Regions from separate parts of the Homo sapiens genome. Here all the other regions are linked to region 1. Evidence: fine-mapped expression QTL. A gene starts in region 1. Each other region holds a variant in brackets. All regions are shown on one strand. Distances are from middle to middle.

The links.
Region 2: its variant is fine-mapped to the expression of ADGRG5 in whole blood (TOPMed, PIP above 0.99).
Region 3: its variant is fine-mapped to the expression of ADGRG5 in whole blood (TOPMed, PIP 0.99).

The regions. Positions count from the first base shown.
Region 1 is chr16:57,539,065-57,545,082 of GRCh38, reverse strand. ADGRG5 (adhesion G protein-coupled receptor G5) reads right to left here and starts at 2,440. Exons shown (of 12, transcript NM_001304376.3): 1 at 2,382-2,440. RefSeq lists enhancers at 677-986, 2,491-2,660, 5,534-5,593, 5,614-5,663, 5,914-6,003 and a silencer at 1,047-1,096.
Region 2 is chr16:57,574,376-57,580,393 of GRCh38, reverse strand. It overlaps ADGRG5 (adhesion G protein-coupled receptor G5), which reads right to left. Exons shown (of 12, transcript NM_001304376.3): 11 at 5,302-5,579; 12 at 3,205-4,956. The coding sequence ends at 4,856. All of the region lies in intron 1 of LOC105371291 (a long non-coding RNA gene), which reads left to right. Among named protein-coding and RNA genes, the nearest start is that of ADGRG5, 35 kb to the right of the region's middle. RefSeq lists a silencer at 3,890-3,959 and an enhancer at 5,006-5,175. The variant T/C (reference allele first, on the strand shown) is at 3,510.
Region 3 is chr16:57,604,583-57,609,582 of GRCh38, reverse strand. It overlaps LOC105371291 (a long non-coding RNA gene), which reads left to right and starts at 2,561. Exons shown (of 4, transcript XR_933627.4): 1 at 2,561-2,855. It also overlaps the pseudogene HMGB3P32. The variant A/C (reference allele first, on the strand shown) is at 2,597.

The DNA of each region.
Region 1 (6,018 bases):
TGGGGGAGCCGGGTGTGGTGGCTCATGCCTTAATCCCAGCACTTTGGGAGGCTGAAGCAGGAGGATCACTTGAGCCCAGGAGTTTGAGACCAGCCAGAGTAACATAGGGAGACCCCATCTCTACAAAATTAAACATTAAAAAACCTAACCCAGCATGGTGGCATGAGCCTGTGGTCCCAGCTACTCAGGAGGCTGAGATGAGAGGATTACTTGAGCCTGGGAGCCGTGATTGTGACACTGCACTCCGGCCTGGGTGACAGAGTGAGACTTTGTCTCCAAAGCAAAACAAAACAAACAAACAAACAAAAAAACAGAAAGGTTTGGGGAGGCAAAAGAAGCTACTGAAGGAACTCATTCAGGAGAGATAACTCAGGCCCAGTAGTGGAGGACCTGACAGCACAGAAAGGATCTTGGGCCAATTTGTCCACCCCTTCACTATACTGTTGGTGAAACTGAGGCCCAGAGAGATAGATGGATTTGACCTGCAAGGTGTAAGACCAGGCTCTTACCCCCACTGGTTCCAGGCAGGCACTGAGGGAAGAAAAGCCTGACCCTACCACACAACTGAAGAAATTGAGGCCAAAGCAGAAGTGATACCTCCCCCAGGCACTCCAGATAGAAGCTGTGGTTTCCACCCCCTTTCCCAGGAGCAAACCACAGTCTTCACTTCTGCTTGCAACCTCCAAATTCCCCTCCACATCCCTTCAGAGAGGTCACCATGCACCATCCCCCCACACGCTGAGCCATTTCATTCTCCACCCTGCAATTCATTATTTGTGGCCTTCTAGGAAACAGCAATCCCTTATCTGACTTCCAGGATGGTTCCAGTTGATGGTGGGGAAACCGAATACTGCGTAAGAGGAGTCTGCTTGAGGTTCTACAGCAGGCCAGTGGGCAAGCTGGGACTCAAACCCAGGCCTCCACGGTCCAGGGCACTACCCCCTGCACACTGCAGCCTCCCAAAGATGGTTGGGCAGCTGAGTTGCTTTGCAGACAAGTAAGACTCTATTTAGGCCAATAGAGAAATGAGGAGCTGTGGAGCACAGGACAGAGCCTTTGGAAGATGAGAATTTGATAACCAGTTGCAGTATTCAGTGCCTAGGCTGTGTGACACTGGGCAGGCACCTGACCTCTCTGTGTCTCAGGTTTTCTCATCTGTAAAATGAGGCCAAGGAAATCTATTTCCCAGAAAGAGAAATTCAAACAACAATTTCCCTGATCCTCTCCTGGGAATCAGGCCCTGAGAAAGGTCCAGGGCTCTGATCAAAGTCCTTGGCCAGGAATACATCTGAGCACAAGGCTTGGGAACCCCTGCCTTCCTCCCTACAGCTGACCATGCACCCCCGAAGCCCACCTCTCCCCAGCAGCACGAAGGCCTACTGAGCCAGCCATTCTCCGCACACAGCCCCACCTGCCCCTGCCAACCACAGTCTGGAGCCCCTGCCCCTGGCCTGGGTGAGGAATCAATCAACCTGTGGTCTCTGCAAAAAAGCACTAACAGGCCAGGAACGGTGGCTCACGCCTGTAATCCCAGCACTTTGGGAGGCCAAGGCAGGTGGATCACCTGAGATCAGGAGTCCGAGACCAGCCTGACCAAAGTGGCGAAATCCCGCCTCTACTAAAATTACGAAAATTAGCCAGGCATGCTGGCTGGTGCCTGTAATCCCAGCTACTCAGGAGGCTAAGGCAGGAGAATCGCTTGAACCTGGGAGGTGGAGGTTGCAGTGAGCCGAGATCGCACCACTGCACTCCAGCCTGGGCAACAAAGCAAGACTCCGTCTCAAAAAAAAAAAAAAAAAAAAAAGCCCTAAGAAATGCTATAGTAACCCTATTTCCCAGGTTGGGAAAGAGAGGCCACCCTGGAGCCCAACAGGAAGTCTGTGACCAAGCCAGCAGCAGGTCCATTTACCTGAGACATGCTGTCCCCAGGATCCAATCCAGGTCACTCTGAAAGGAGCTGCACCTGCTCCAGATTGCCAAGCACAAACTGTGTGCCAGGTCCTCTACTGAGCCCCTGACAGCCATCCAAGGTGCAGGTTCCCAGACTCACCCCATTTTACAGATGAGAAACTGAGGTCCAGAAAAGAAACCTCTCTTCACTTGTCCCAGACCTCGCGGGGAAGCTAAGATTCGAGACCCATGCCTAACCACTTCTTAATTTAAATTGCCCCTCCTTCCAAAAGCACAGATCTCTACATTGCCCCAGATGTGGAGCTGCCAACCAGAAAGGGAAGGAGGGTGGGTCCCCAGCTTGCTCACCAGGATATCACCAGGTCTGTGCCCACCTGGACATGGGTATGGCCAGTGCCCACTGAGGGGCCTGTGGATAAGGACAGAGAACTGGGCAGAGGAGAGTGGGGAGAGGCCCGGAGGAGGCTGACCTGAGAAGCTGCCGCTGCCGTCTCAGCTGCTGTCTCGGCTGCTGTCTTGTAGCTTCTGCAGGAAGAAGGGGAAGTCGGGAGGCGTCTGTGGGTGGCCTCTCCCTTTGCCCCACACCTGCACCCCCACTGCACTTCTCTCTGCTCCCTTCACCCCAGGCCCAGGCACCACACTCTCACTTCACTTCTTCTTTCACCAGCAGCAGCCTCTTTGCTTCCTTCGAGCTGTCGGTCATGCCCTGGTCACCCTTTGAGGGTATCACCCCGTAGAGTCTGCAGCTACTTCCTGGGGTGGCTGCTCCTCTGTGGAGGTGCTCAAGGACATGGCAACGTGGCCTTATGCAGTGCGCAAGACCCACCTGAGCTCTGCACCTTTGGGCAAGACATGTTGCCCCTCTGGGCCTCAGTTTTCCCATCTATAGAAAAGGGAAAATGATCCCTGCCTGACCTGACAATTGATGGCATATTGATGATGGCAAAGACCTCAGGCAGCAGCTTGGTCAGACTGCCTGGGTTCAAGTACCAAGCCCACCACTTACTGGGTGGGTGACTTGGGGCAAGCCACTCATGCTCTCTGAACCTGTTTCCCCTCTGTAAAATGGAGATAATGACAGTACCATCTTGCAGGGCAGTGTGGGGCTTACAAAAGGTAAGGCTGGCAAAGTCACTGGAAGTGCTCTATGAAGCCGTCATATTTCACAGATGAGGGACCTGAAGCCCAGAGAGGACCTGGGCCTGGCCCAGAGTTGCCAAGTGGCAGAGCATGGTGGAGAGGGGCCTCCCTGGCCACAGAGCCCAGAAAACATGAGGCTGGAAAGCTGGCCAGCTTCTCCTTGAGCCAGGCAGCTGGATAGGCCTGTCCTGCATCAGCCATACCCTCTGAAGAGCTCTAAGGGAAAGCAAGGAGGTGTGTGTGGGGGATAGAGAGAGAGTGTTGGTAATGGGGAGACGGTGCTCTCTCTTGCCTGGGCCCCATCCAGACTCCTGGGAAAACTGACTCAGGAATGTGCTCTTCCAGCCCTGGGGGAAAGATGGAGAGGCAGCAAAAGGGAGAAACCAGACAGGTCCTAACATGGTCTCCCCGCTCTCTGCCTCACTGGGGCCCTTCCCGCATCAGCCCAAATACAGCTTGCAGGTAGTACAAGTGGCCTCTGCTGAAGCAGGAGGGAGCTGCTCCTTGGAGGGCAGCCAGGTCCCCACCCCAGCTGCACGGTGAAGGTTTTGCAGGGACACCGGTGCACCTGTGTCCTGACTCCTGGGCTACACTCCCTCTGGGTGACTTGGGCAAGCCTTGGCCCTTCTTTGCGCTTCGGTTTTCTTTGATCAGGATCCAGACCTTGACCTCCAGGCTCTTCCTTTCCGAGGTCACCCAGCTACCTCTAGGATTGCCATGCCAACCTCCTCCTTCCTCATGCTGAATGTGAGCCCAACTGGCTATTCTTAGGGCTCAGGAGGAGGCCCTGCCTACCCCATAGCCCCTCTAGCCTGGGTCTGTACCAGCCTCACTGTGCCTTGCTTCAGTTGGGGGCTAAGTTAGTGCCCGTTACTTAGCCCTGCACTCCTGATCCTGAAGCTCACTACCAAGATACTCTCCTGCTCAAAAGCCAGTGGTGAGGCTGGGTGCGGTGACTCAGGCCTGTTATCCCAGCACTTTGGGAGGTGGAGGCAGGCAGATTACTTAAGGCTAGGAGTTTGAGACCAGCCTGGGCAACATGGCAAAACCCCGTCTCTACTAAAAATACAAAAATTAGCCGGGTGTGGTGGCACATGCTTGTAATTCTAGGTACTCGGGAGACTGAGGCACAAGAATCGCTTAAACCCGGGAGGTGGAGGTTGCAGTGAGCCGAGATCGCACCACTGCATTCCAGCTTGGGCAACAGAGTGAGACTCCACCTCAAAAACAAAACGAACAAACAAAAAACCAGTGGTGGCTCCCTATTGCCTTCACAGTCTAACCCCGTCCAACTTCCATTGCCACCCAGTCTGATTGTGCTTGCCATATTAATACCCACCTCCCTGCTCGGTCCCAGCTGTGGTCCCACACATGTACCTGGGAAGCCCTCCAGCTCCTCTCCACCCATCAGGGCTCCACTGGATCCTGCCTCCTCCAGGAAGGCTTCTCTGCCTCCTGCTCCTCCAGGAAGGCTTCTCTGCCTCCTGCTCCTCTACAAAACACTCTGGATGCTTGAGCAGTAGGAAGCCTGCCAGTCTCCTCTCAGGCCCCCAGGCAGGGAGGAGGCCACATACCATCTCAGTAAAGTGTCTCCCTATATGGGGGCTACTTACCCTGGTGAGTAGCCTGCAAGAAGATTGTAGGTGGGACCCCGACAGGACTTTAGATAAACAGTCACAATGCAAAAAAAGTCATTTACACATCTTTTTCAATCTTGGTTGTGTCCAGCAAAAGCCTCAGCTTAGAGCTAAACTGTTTCTTTTGTTTTTTGTTTGTTTGTTTGTTTGTCTGAGACAGAGCCTCACTCTGTCGCCAGGCTGGAGTGCAGTGGCGCAATCTCGGCTCACTGCAACCTCTGCCTCCCAGGTTCAAGCTATTCTCCTGCCTCAGCCTCCCAAGTAGCTGGGACTACAGGTGCACACCACCACGCCCAGCGAATTTTTGTATTTTTAGTAGAGATGAGGTTTCACCATGTTGGCCAGGATGGTCTCGATCTCTTGACAAGTCAAGTGATCCGCTCACCTTTGCCTCCCAAAGTGCTGGGATTACAGGTGTGAGCCACTGTGCCCCGCCGAGGGCTAAATTGTTTTAACCCCTCTCTAACACAGACTATGTCCCTTATTTTTCCCCATTTTTCAATCTTTTATTAGACTTCAAAACAGGACGTCTGACTTTTAAATGTTTTATTGTGGTAAGATATATATATATATACACGCACACACACATACATATATGTAACAAAAGCTACCATTTTAAGCATTTTTAAGTGTAGATTCAGACCAGGTGGGTTGGCTCGCACCTATAATCCCAACACTTTGGACAAAGCCCTAGTGGTAGGACTACTTGAGCCCAGGAGTTCGAGACCAGCCTGGGAAACATAGCAGACCCTGCCTCTATAAAAAAAAAAAAAATTTAGTTGGTCATGGTAACGTGCCCCTGTAGATCCACCTACTCAGGAGGCTGAGGTGGGAGGACCGCTTGAGCCCAGGAGGTCGAGGCTGCAGAGAGTTGTGTTCGAACCATTGCACTCCAGCCTGGGTGACAGAGTGAGACCCTGTCTCAAAAAAAAAAAAAAAAGGGGTACAGTGCAATGGCATTATCTACCTTTACACTGTCATGCAAACATCACCACATCCCATGTCCAAAACATTTTTCATATTCTCAAACTGAAACTCCATACCCATGAAACAGAACTTCCTGTTCTCTACTCCCCCAAGCCCTTAGCAATCACCGTTCTATTTTCTGTCTCTTGAATTTGACCACTCTAAGTGCCTCATCTTAGTAGAATCATACAGTCTTTGTCCTTGCGTGACTGGCTCATTTCACTTAGCATGACGTCTTCAAGGTTCCTCCGTGTTGTAGTGTGTCAGACTCTCATTCCTTTTAAAGGTTGAATCACATTCCACTATGTGTATAATACATATTACATTTTGTTCATTCATCTGTTGATGGACACTTCAGTTACTT
Region 2 (6,018 bases), 35 kb before region 1:
TCCTCCCACCTTAGCTTCCTGAGTAGCTGGGACTACAGGCACATGCCACCACGCTGGGCTAATTAATTCTCTATTCAACTGTTTGTTTGTTGAATTTTAGATTTTGAGAGTTTTTTATGTTTTTTTTTTTAGTAGAGACAAGGTCTTGCTCTGCCACTCAGGCTTGAGTGCAGTGGAGTGACTACGGCTCACTGCAGCCGCAAACGCCTGGGCTCAAGCAATCCTCCCGCCTCAGCCTCCCAAGTAGCTGGAACTACAGGTGTGCCCCACCATGCCTGGCTAATTTTTTTGATTTTTATAGAGACAGGGGTCTTGCTATGTTGCCCAGGGTGGTCTCAAACTCCTGGCCTCAAGTGATCCTCCCGCCTCAGCCTCTTGAGTCACTAGGATTAAAGGCATGAGCCACCACATCCAACTTGAGATAATACTTTTTATTTCTTGAAGTTCCATTTGTTTTCCCCCAAATCTCTCTGTCTCTCTTCATTTCTATTCGTTTATATGCTCATCTTTGCGATTGCATCTTGTGTTTCTTTAAACGTGTCATATATGGCTATTCTGTATTCCGTCCCTGGGGTCTAAAATCTGTTGCTTCCTTCTTTTCTGCCGACTCTCACTCGGTGGCTTACTTTGTGATTTGGGTAAGTTTTATATTGAAGCCCATTGCTTCGTCTCACTCTGGGCATCCTCCTGGCCTAACCAAGGGAAGCTTACCTCCATATTGAGTTTGCTTCTCTCTTGCCAGTAGCAGGGGGCACCCCAACCCAGGACCACCTCAGCCCCCTCAGAGAGTTTTATCTCAGAGGTGGTTCAACTTCCCATCTTCCCCACCCCTAGCTCTTCCAAAGTTCACTATCAAGAAATGGAAAAATTGCTATAAGACTGGCTTTGGAACCAGCCCTCCCCTCCAGGCAACCTGCCAGTTCATGCCAGCTCTCTGACACTCTCCCACGCCCCCAGCTCCAGCGCCCCTGGGTTCATTCTCCAGCTCCCTCTGCTGAAACCCAGGCTCTTGGCCACTCTACTCCCTCACCCTCCTCAATTTTTCTTCTCAGCACTTGTCGCCACCTGTCATATCTTATGTCTATTTGTTAAACTGTTTAGTGTGAGACATTCCTCCCCCACAAGAATGTGATGACTTGTTCATTTATATATCCTCAGCAACTAGTACAGTGCCTGGAATATAACAAGTGTTTAACAATTACATGATGGGTGAATGAATGAGCCAATGAGACACAGCACCTGTCTCCAAAATGCCCTCGGTCTGGCAGCTGAGACAGATGGGGACAGTCATAATACAAAGAAATAACGTCTGTCATGGGGGAAGGGCGGGAGTGGTGGGGCTGAAAGGAGGCCCCACCCTAGATTTGAAGTCTGCATTGAGGGGAATGAGGATGTGCAAGGCTGAGATTTGAAGGATGTGTCGCCATCACTCCACAAATGAGACACACAGGGAGAGCCTTCCAGACAGAGAACAGCCCAGAGATGAGAAAGAACCTGTTCAGGGAACCGAAAGCTGTTCAGTGTGGCAGCACCGAGGAGGAGGGGGAAGGAGTGGTAAGACACGGCTGGAGAGGGGGACACAAGCCGGACCGTGGGCCTTTCAAGTTCCACTGGGGAGTGTGGCAATGAAGAGGGGGTGCTGTGGAAGGGCTTCCGCAGGGGTGGACACGGGCAGGCTGCAGGATGGAAAACACCCTCTGGCTTCTGGGTGAATTTGGAATTGGGAGTGGGGAGGCAGGGAGGTCCATGGCGCCTCTACAGGGGATGGGGGCTAGGTCTGCGCCAGGGCTGACAGCAGGGGTGGGGACACCCAAGGCAGACCCCTTGGGATTTCTGGTGGTGGCTTTGGCTGGCAATAGGAACACCTCAAGCTGAGTGGGCTGTGAATGAGGGGGACTCATCCAGTGGGCAGAGGGGCTTCCCCCTCAGCACAGCCTGGGTGGATTTAGAGAGTGAAGAGTCCACACCCCGGACTCCTGAGCCAATGCTCTTCTCATTAGAGCTTCCAGGTTTAGCAAAATCAAAATACATCAATAATAGGATACCCTGCTACATGTGAATCCAGGTAAACAATGAATAATGTTTTAGTACGTCTCCCAAATTGGGCATCTGATATTTTATCTGGCAACCCTATTTTCAATAGCCCCCCCATACACACACATGCACACACCCTTTTCTGAAATAACACTAACAAAACCACACACAGAAATCTCCTAATCTGTGGTCCTGTTGACATTTACATGGCATCCGTTCACCAAGTGCCTGCTCTGAGTCCCTGGCCCTGAACAACAGCCCCCAGACTCCACCCCATTCCATCCTCCTGCTAAGTCTGGAAGCTCCCAAGAGCTGGCCCCAGGGCCCCATCTGGGCTCTGCTGGGAGAGAGAGGAAGGGGGAAGAGGGGCCCTGCCTGGCTCCACACTATCTCCCTCAGTCCCTCCCCCACACCCAGTGAGACATTTCCAGGAAGTGGTCCCTGCCCAGGGCCTGGACCCCAGTGGGGCTCAGGGCCACAAGCTTGGGGCTGCTTCCTGGAACTGCCAGTCTCCTCCCGTGTCGCTGTGGCCACATCCTCCCTCGGGCAAGCCCTGGGCTTGGTGGGGTCTGAGAGGCTGGGTCCTGGGCTGGGGGGCTCTATGCAGACCCAGCCACAGCAGGAGCCTGTGTCCCCACTCCCTGGGGCTGCCCAAGAGAAGGGCTAAAGGTTCCCATAATTCCTCGGGACCCTCATTAGCAAGGGGACCCCCTGCCCCAAGGCCTGGAGAGCCTGGGCTTAACCATGGGAGCTTGGATGGGTGCTCACATCACCCAGATGGTGGCAGGGGTGGGGAGAATCTGCCTGGAGTTAGCGTGGGAAAGAGGCCTTCTCTAGGCACCGCTGGGGCAATTTTGTAGATGTGATAAATGACCACCAGGAATTTCTATAGACCGGAAGATTGGGGAACTGGGAGGTCGGGGGACATGTGGCATGGCCTGGAGGCTGCACTGTGTGGGGACTATTCCTAGAACAGCAGAAAGTCAGCGAGGTGGGAGTAGAGACCCGTCTGGGGAAAGAAACTGAGGCATGGTGAGATGTGCCTAAGAAGGGGTTGTGCCTACAAGGTTGAGCAGAGCTGGGCCTGGGGCTTAGACAGGCTGGCCTCTGAAACTCAGTTAACACTGTTAACAATAATAGCAAAAATACTAATGATAATACCAGTAACCATTTACTGAGCACTTACTCTGTGCCAAGTCTCTTTATTTGAATTCTTTTACTTAGTCTTCAAAATAGGTACCACTATGGCCTCTATTTTACAAATAGGAAAACTGAGGCACACAGAGGCTGAGTGGTTTGTCCACAGTCTCACAGCTAGCAAGTGGCAGAGCTGGCATTGGAGCCCAGGCAGCCTGGCTCCAGAGCCTACGCCACTCACTGCCTGGTGAAGGAGTTATTTGCATCTAGAAATGTACAGAAGAGCAGAAGATGTCCCAGGAGAACTTTTCCCCAGGGGAAATCCTGCTCCTATTTTC[T/C]GCCTGTGACCTTCGAGGTCATCAAAACGGCCCAGTGGCCTGGGGCAGGGCCCTGAGCACCCACCACCTGAGCACCCTGCTCTGGTGCCAGCTATGTCTGGGGTGCAGCCCCCAAGAGCGAAAGTGCACCGCCGCATTGGGAAAAGAGACAAATGGCCGTGTAAGCGTGTCTTGCCTTTCCTCCTGGAGGAAATGGGTCACTCAGTAGGCGCAGTCCTGCAGTTACGGCCCCTCCAGCTGGTGCATGGGGTCTGCAAACAGGTGTTTGAGCGATTCTAGATGCAGTCTTGGCGCCAAGGGCCTCTGAGTGTGGACCAACGGTGCCGCCTAGTGTTCGTTCTGGGAAACGCACTGGCTTCATGAGCACTGTCTCATGAAGGTCTGGGGTAAGGGTGATTCTCTGAAACTATGGCCTGAGCTTCGAATTTAAAACCCACACTCTCACGCCTACCTGGGCAAATTCAATCTTGCCCAATCACCAAACAGCCAGGACACTGGGATCCAGCTGATTCAGCTGGAGGAGAAAGAAGCGTTTTCCTCTGCCCCCAAGAAAACTGCGGGATGGGCTACTGGTCCAGATGGTCTATGGAAGTCTTGGGAGCACCGCAGGAGGAGCCTCTGGGAACGGCGGAACCTCCCAATCTTTGGGAAGGGTGGGCTTGGACTTGGAGTCATCATAATTTAGGGAGTTAAAGGAAAAGAGGCCTCAGGCATAGGCCAGTAAAGTCTCAGAGCCTGGGTAGGTCCCACCCGCCCCAAGCCAGGATGCCATCTGGCCCTCCCCTGGAGGAAGGTGGCAGGGCCAAGCAGGTGCTTCCAGGGCAGCCTGAATGAGATCCTGCCCCTAGCAAGCAGGTGGAGGCCGCGGGAATTCCCACCCCACGCTGACACTCTTCCCCCTGGTCTTATGCAATTTTTACTAAGCTCCTGGGTTAGGCTGAAACAAAGCCGCTTGCCCCCATGTCACAGCTGTGGATACCTAGGGTCTGTGAGAAGTGGCAGGCCCAAGGTCATACAGACAGACTCAAAGACAGTCCTTGAAACTTGGCTTCCTGATGCCCAGGCTGGTGCTCTGCCCACATCCCTGGCGAGCTGGGCCCAGGTACCAGGACAAAGTTTGCTGCCCCAGGTAAGGTTGGATCTGCCCCGGAGCAAAATGTCAGGGAGAGGTAGAGCAATGCCTTCCCCTCAGTGCCTGGAGAGGCCGTGGAAGTGGAAAAGGCCCCTTGGCGGTCACAGTGGCCTCTGGGGTCCAGCAGCAGGCCTGCCACCCTCTCTAGCAGGAGCCGTAGCCTCAGGCTACTGGCGGCCAGAGAGGCTGAGGATTCCAGGCCAGGAGGCCCGGACTACTGTGTTGTTTGGGAGGAGCTGAAGGCCTCTATCTGTGCCTTGGCCTCTGCTTCTGAGCGGCACCGCTGGGAGCAGAACCACAGGAAAAGGAAGAAACCTGCAAGAGAAAGGCGGGAGTTCCACGGGGCAGCATGGGCTTCCCCAAAGGCCAGGGTCTCCTTGGCTGCAGCGAGCTGGCCTCCCTGGGGCCCATGGGCAACTCCCAGAATCTCTTACTGTAGGAGGCCAGAGGGGCAGAGCCTCAGAGCTGGAAGAGCTGCTGTGGCCAGTCCATAGGGTACCTTCATGCAGATGTAGCCCCCACCAGCTTAGCTAGTGGAGCTGTGGGCTGGATGTTAGTCCCCCACTCGCCCCCTTCACCTGAACCCCTTTAGCAGTGAACATCCCACCAGCCATACACCCCCTGCCAGGTAGCTTCCTCCAGGCCGCCCTCCAGCCCTACCGTAGAGCGAGTTTAAGATGGTGAAGAGGAACAGCTGGGGCAGCAGGAAGACGCCAAAAGAAAAGAAGGCCAAGGCCCAGGTGGTTCCCAGCAGCACGGTGAGGCCCAGCACAGTGACAGTGTCATGGCAGGCCCTGACACTTGGTGCATCCGCCCGCTCCCGCAGCCTGCGCAGGGTCCACAGCGCCCAGGCCAGCACCACCAGGTTGAAGAGGGACGTGAGGCCGCCGTAGCCCATGACCAGGACACTGTGCACCACGGGGCTCCGCACCCAGCATCTGCAGGGGAGGGTGACGTGTCAGGCTCACAGTGGCTCCCAGGCCCGCGGGGAGGCCAGCATCACTCCCTGAAGCCCCACTCGGTCTCCTGGCTCAGGCCCTATTGTTTCTTGCCTGACTGAACACACAGTGAAACCCCTCACCCGGCTTTCCAGCCAGGCCACCATCAGAGGACACATCTGCCTCCTTGGTCAACAATCTGAAGCTCCCTCATGCCCACCTTTCCAGCCACAGTGGTTTCTCTCACGTCCCCATGTCTTCACCCCCCTGAAAATTCTTCCTCTCTCCTTTCCACATCTCACTCCTCTCTGCTTCCATGGCCAGCCCAAGGCCGGCATGCCCCATCTTCTATTGGATCCTTGGCCCGGAGCCCTCTTTCCTGGAAACTTCCCCTTCCACCCCACTACATGGTTGTCACCACCTCATCACCATCTCTGCA
Region 3 (5,000 bases), 65 kb before region 1:
CACAGATTCTATTTGCCATGCAGACTGATCTCAGCAATTTGGGGCTGCTGTGGCCCCACAGGGAGGAAACCGAGCTGCATCGCACAGAAGGGTCAGCCACATCCCCCAGTTGCATGGGGATAAAGCCCTCTGCTTTTCCACTTGTCTCTGAATTCCTGTCCCAGGAATTAGGATTTCTTGTGCAGGCTGGAATGAGCAAAATACTTAGGGTGTAACATTTAAGGAGGTGCCCACCGTCAGTGCCAATGGCCCTGCACCTCACTTTAATCTTCATGTGATTCTATTAGGCAATCTCTATTATTATCCCATTTCGTTGTCCAAAAAAGGAAAAAAAAAAAAAAAAGAAAGGAAGAAAAAAAGAAAAAGAATAAGGCTCAGAGAGCTGATGTTACTTGCCCTGAAAAGTGACAGAGCCAAAATTCAAACCCAGACCCATCAGATTCCAGCACCTAATGGCTTAACCATTGGGCCATCCTTTCTCCTGAGTACATGGGCACCCAGGTGATCCTCAAGTGACCAGTGCGGCAGAAAATACGCTGAGGCTGAGTGTGCAGGCGGCAGCTGCAGTCCCAGCTCTGTCCAGGCTCACCGGGTGACCTTGGGCAAGTCTCTTTTTTTCTCTGTGCCTCAATTTCCTTGTTTATAGAAGCTGGTGGCTATGCTGGGCCAAGAGTCACAAACTACAGTGCCCACAGCGGCCAGGCTGCAAAGCTAATGAGAGCAGGAAGGGGGCAGGGTGGGAGACAATAGGGAGTGGGGGGACCTGGGGTGAACTGGAGAGTATGGGCCACGCTGGGGAGCACTGCCCAGCTCCAGTGAACTGTCACTTGAGGAAATATGAGCCCCATGTGGCCTGATCCTTCAGTTTTTTCAAGGAAGCCAGAAATTTGAAATTAATGTGAAAATCTTAATTGTTATAAGTTGGGGATGAATTCAAATGGATTTAAAGCCTGTCATAAGCCAAACAAAGCCTATCTAAGGCTAGATCTCACCCTCGGGGCCTCCAGCAAGCAACCTCTAGATTCCATGTCAGAAGCTGTAAGTGTTCCTCAATATCCACCTCCCCTTTCTATACCAATAGAACCCCATATTTTCGCTGGGTTCATGGCCCCCTACAATAAAGACATTATTACCTAACATTCCTTGGAACTGGGTGGCCACATGACCAAGTTCTGAACAATAGGATGCAGCCATCAGTAAAGTCTGCAAATCTTGCATCATGCTCTTAAAAAAAAAAAAAGAGGTGCACCCTTTTGGAGGAGCAAAAAGGGAAGGGGTATGAGTGCCCAAAGTCCAGGAGCCACCACAGCCACCGTGCAGCCTGGTCCCTCGCATGGGATGGAAGTAAACGGCTTCTTGTTTATATGGGTTCTTACTCTTGAGTTTGTTACAGCAGCCAAAGTCATAACCTACCTAGCACAGGCTCTTTCAGGGATCTTCCTCAGGGCTCATAATTTTAAAGCCAGAAGGCTCCCACAATCCTCAATTCCCACCCCCATTCCTGACCATATACCTATTTTACAGATGGGGAGACCAAGGTTCAGAAAGGTGGAGAGTCTGTAACTTAATGAGTGAACAGCCTCTCTAAATGCAGACACAGCATAAATAGGACCCTTCTTCTACCCCAAATAAAGCTGCCAGGAGCTCATGTCTGGGAAAAGGGACTACAAGGGTGGGGACGGTGCCACCCGCATCCTCTCAGGGGCCACCGTGTGCTAGGCAAAGCCTTTCTTCACTGCTAGGGGCCCCTACAAGTCCCAGGCTTGCACCCCAACCCCGTGTTTCTTTGTTGTCTGCCCCCAGCCCGCAAGCCCATGTCTCTCTGGGCTGAAGAGGCCTTCAGGACATCCTTTTTTTTTTTTGAGATGGAGTCTCGCTCTGTCACCCAGGCTGGAGCGCAATGGTGCCATCTCAGCTCACTGCAACCTCCGCTTCCCAAGTTCCAGTGATTCTCCTGCCTCAGCTTCCCGAGTAGCTGGGATTACAGGCATGCGCCACCACGCCTGGCTAATTTTTGTATTTTCAGTAGAGACAGGGTTTCACCATGTTGACCATGCTGGTCTCAAACTCCTGACCTGAAGTGATCCGCCCGCCTATTCCTCCCAAAGTGCTGGGATAACAGGCATGAGCCACCATGCCTGGCCAGCACTGGTAATTTTTTAAAGCTCCTTCTACCCCTATACACCCCCACCCCCACACCCGCCCGATGGCCCCAGGCGACTGCAGGGTTGGGGCATGTGAGTCTGGTGGTTTCGCCCTAAGGGTCCTGGGTATCTGGTGCTCGGCACTTTGCCAGTCTCAGCCACTGGCTCAGCCTTTCCCCTGGAGATATAGAGGCTATGGGGGCAGTGATCTGGAAGGCCAGCTGTGTAGAAGTCCCTGAGGGTCAAAGTCTAGGTCTGGCAGTGTTGGAGAATAAAACCCTTGGCTGGCCAAACACTGGGAGGCTGCACCTGCTGCTCTGCAAATATGCCTGCCCCTGCCTGAGCAGGAGGCCTCAGCCAGCCCTCAGCAGGAACCCAGCCAGGGCCACCCACCCCAGCCATGCTAAGCCTCTGCCAGAGTGAGAGAGGCCCGCGTGGGCCAGGGGTGGCAC[A/C]AGAGTCACTCTCAGGGTGGGCCAAAGGGTATCACAGAGACAGCCCGGCCCTGGAGCCATGCAGACCAGGAGCCGGGTGCCACCTCCAACACCAACTCACAGTGACTTTGGGCAAGTCCTTTTTTTGTCTTGAACCTCAGTGGGCCTAGTCTTGGCAACTGTGCAGTCGAGTGTCCAGCCCAGGGTCTAGACCAGAGCCAGTGGCAGCAAACAGCCCTGTTATCAAGAAGCAACATAACAAGAAGAAAGGAGAAAAAAGGTAAGCTGATTTTTCCTTTTCTGAGTGTTTGCAGAAGTCAACAGATAATGTCCAAGGTTAATAAATCAGGAAATGGCAGTAGAAGCATGTTATTTATGGCTCTGGAGGTAACTGCCACATGAGCTCGAACTATTAGAAGTGGTTGCCTCTGGGGAGGGGGCTTGCAGGAAATGGGCTTTTCACTATAAGTCCTTTTTACCAGTTCGTGTTTTTTAATGTCTATTTAGAAGTATTTATTAAAAAGTGACTCTGCCCCTCCACTCTTGATTTTCCAGGTCATCCCTGTTAACAGAAGTATTTTTGGCCTATAAGGCCATGTATAGGGTTAAGTGCTCAGACTGTGGAGTTGGGCTGCCAGAGTTCAAATCCTTGCTCTGTAACTTACCAGCTGTGCCGCCTTGGGCAAATTACTTAACCACTCTGTTCCTGTTTTCTCATATGTAGAATGGGAGTAATAATAATTCAATGCTCCTGGTTTACACAGTAAACATTCAGTAATTGTGAGACATGATTATTATATATCCCTGTAACTCATATATGCAATTGTTTTACAAAAATAGAATTAGTATGCTATACACAGTGTTTGCAACTCGCTTTTCTTTCTCTTGCCAAGTTATAATGGATATCATTTCTGCTTAGAATGTATAGTTCCATCTCATTCTTTTTCATTAGTACAAGAATTCCATTGCATAGAATGTAAAATTATTTAGCCATAACCCTCTATTGAAGGAAATTAAGGGGTCCTATTTTTTAGTGTAATACACTTTGCAGTAATTAACATATATATTTTGGCACATGTGTGGCTATTTCTAAAGGAAAGATACCTAAAAGAGGGATTACTAGGTTATAGAATTGTGCAATTAAAAATTGTACAGATACTTGAGCCGGGGAGGTCAAGGCTGCAGTGAGCATGATGGCACCACTGCATTTCAGCCTGGGTGACAGAGCAAGACCCTGTCAAAAAAAAAAAAAAAAAGGTATAGACACTGCTAAATTGCCCCCTTAAAAAGTAGTACCAATTTAGAGTCCCACCATATCCATTCCAATGTGGAGGTGATCTCTCTAGATGGGCAAAAAATTGTTTTAGTGTGCCTATTGTAATTCTGAGTGGAACCGAGCATCTTTTCATAACTTCATCATCCATTTTTCTTTCTTCTCCTGTGAAACAAATGTTTATATCCTTTATCCAACTTAAAAAAAAGTAATACTGTTTATTTAACTTCAAAAACATTTCAGCATTCTAAACATACAAAAAAAATAACAGAATGTTGCAAATCGTGTTTAAGGACAGAAGGTTCCTGAATTTTCATTGCAGTGACTCTTTGCTTTAGTGACAATGAAGAGTTCTACAGTTTAAAAACCACCACACTTAACTAAAAAACAAAACAAAAACTAAACACTTCTCATGCCAGCTGACCCCCCCATCTTTGCCTTTAGCTAAGAATGGCAGCAGAAAGCTGTCACCACATACAGAAACAAGACAACTTGAAGCTAAATGAATGCCCACTGCACAGTGAACCGGTCCAGCGTCACGGTGCATGCCCTCAGCTATGGCCCCTCCAAAAGGCACCTTCCCCACAGCCTCAATGCCAGACAAGAAGCATCAAGAGCTTGCCTCAGTTGTTTTATTCTTTTTACAAACTATGGACATATACAGTTGATAACTCAGGATTTCTAGCCAATAACCATATAGTTAACACCATCTTACAAATTATAAAAATGCCAGAAACATGGTTTCTTTGTTTGTTTTGTTTTGTTTTGTTTTGTTTTGAGACGGAGTCTCACTCTGTTCCCCAGTCCGGAGTGCAGTGGCGTGATCTCGGCTCACTGCAAGCTCCGCCTCCTGGGCTCAAGCGATTCTCCTGCCTCAGCGTCTCAAGTAGCTGGGATTATAGGCATGCGCCACCATTCCCGGCTAATCTTTGTATTTTTAGTAGAGACAGGGTTTCGCCATGTTGGCCAGGCTGGTCTCGAACTCCTGACCTCAGGTGATCCGCCCACCTCGGCCTCCCAAAGTGCTGGGATTACAGGCGTGAGCCACCACACCCGGCCCAGAAACATCTTTAAATGCCCTGTCACACCAACAGCAAAGTGCACAGAGTGAGAATATGAGAGGGCGTTTTCATTTTAAAATGTTCGGAGGCT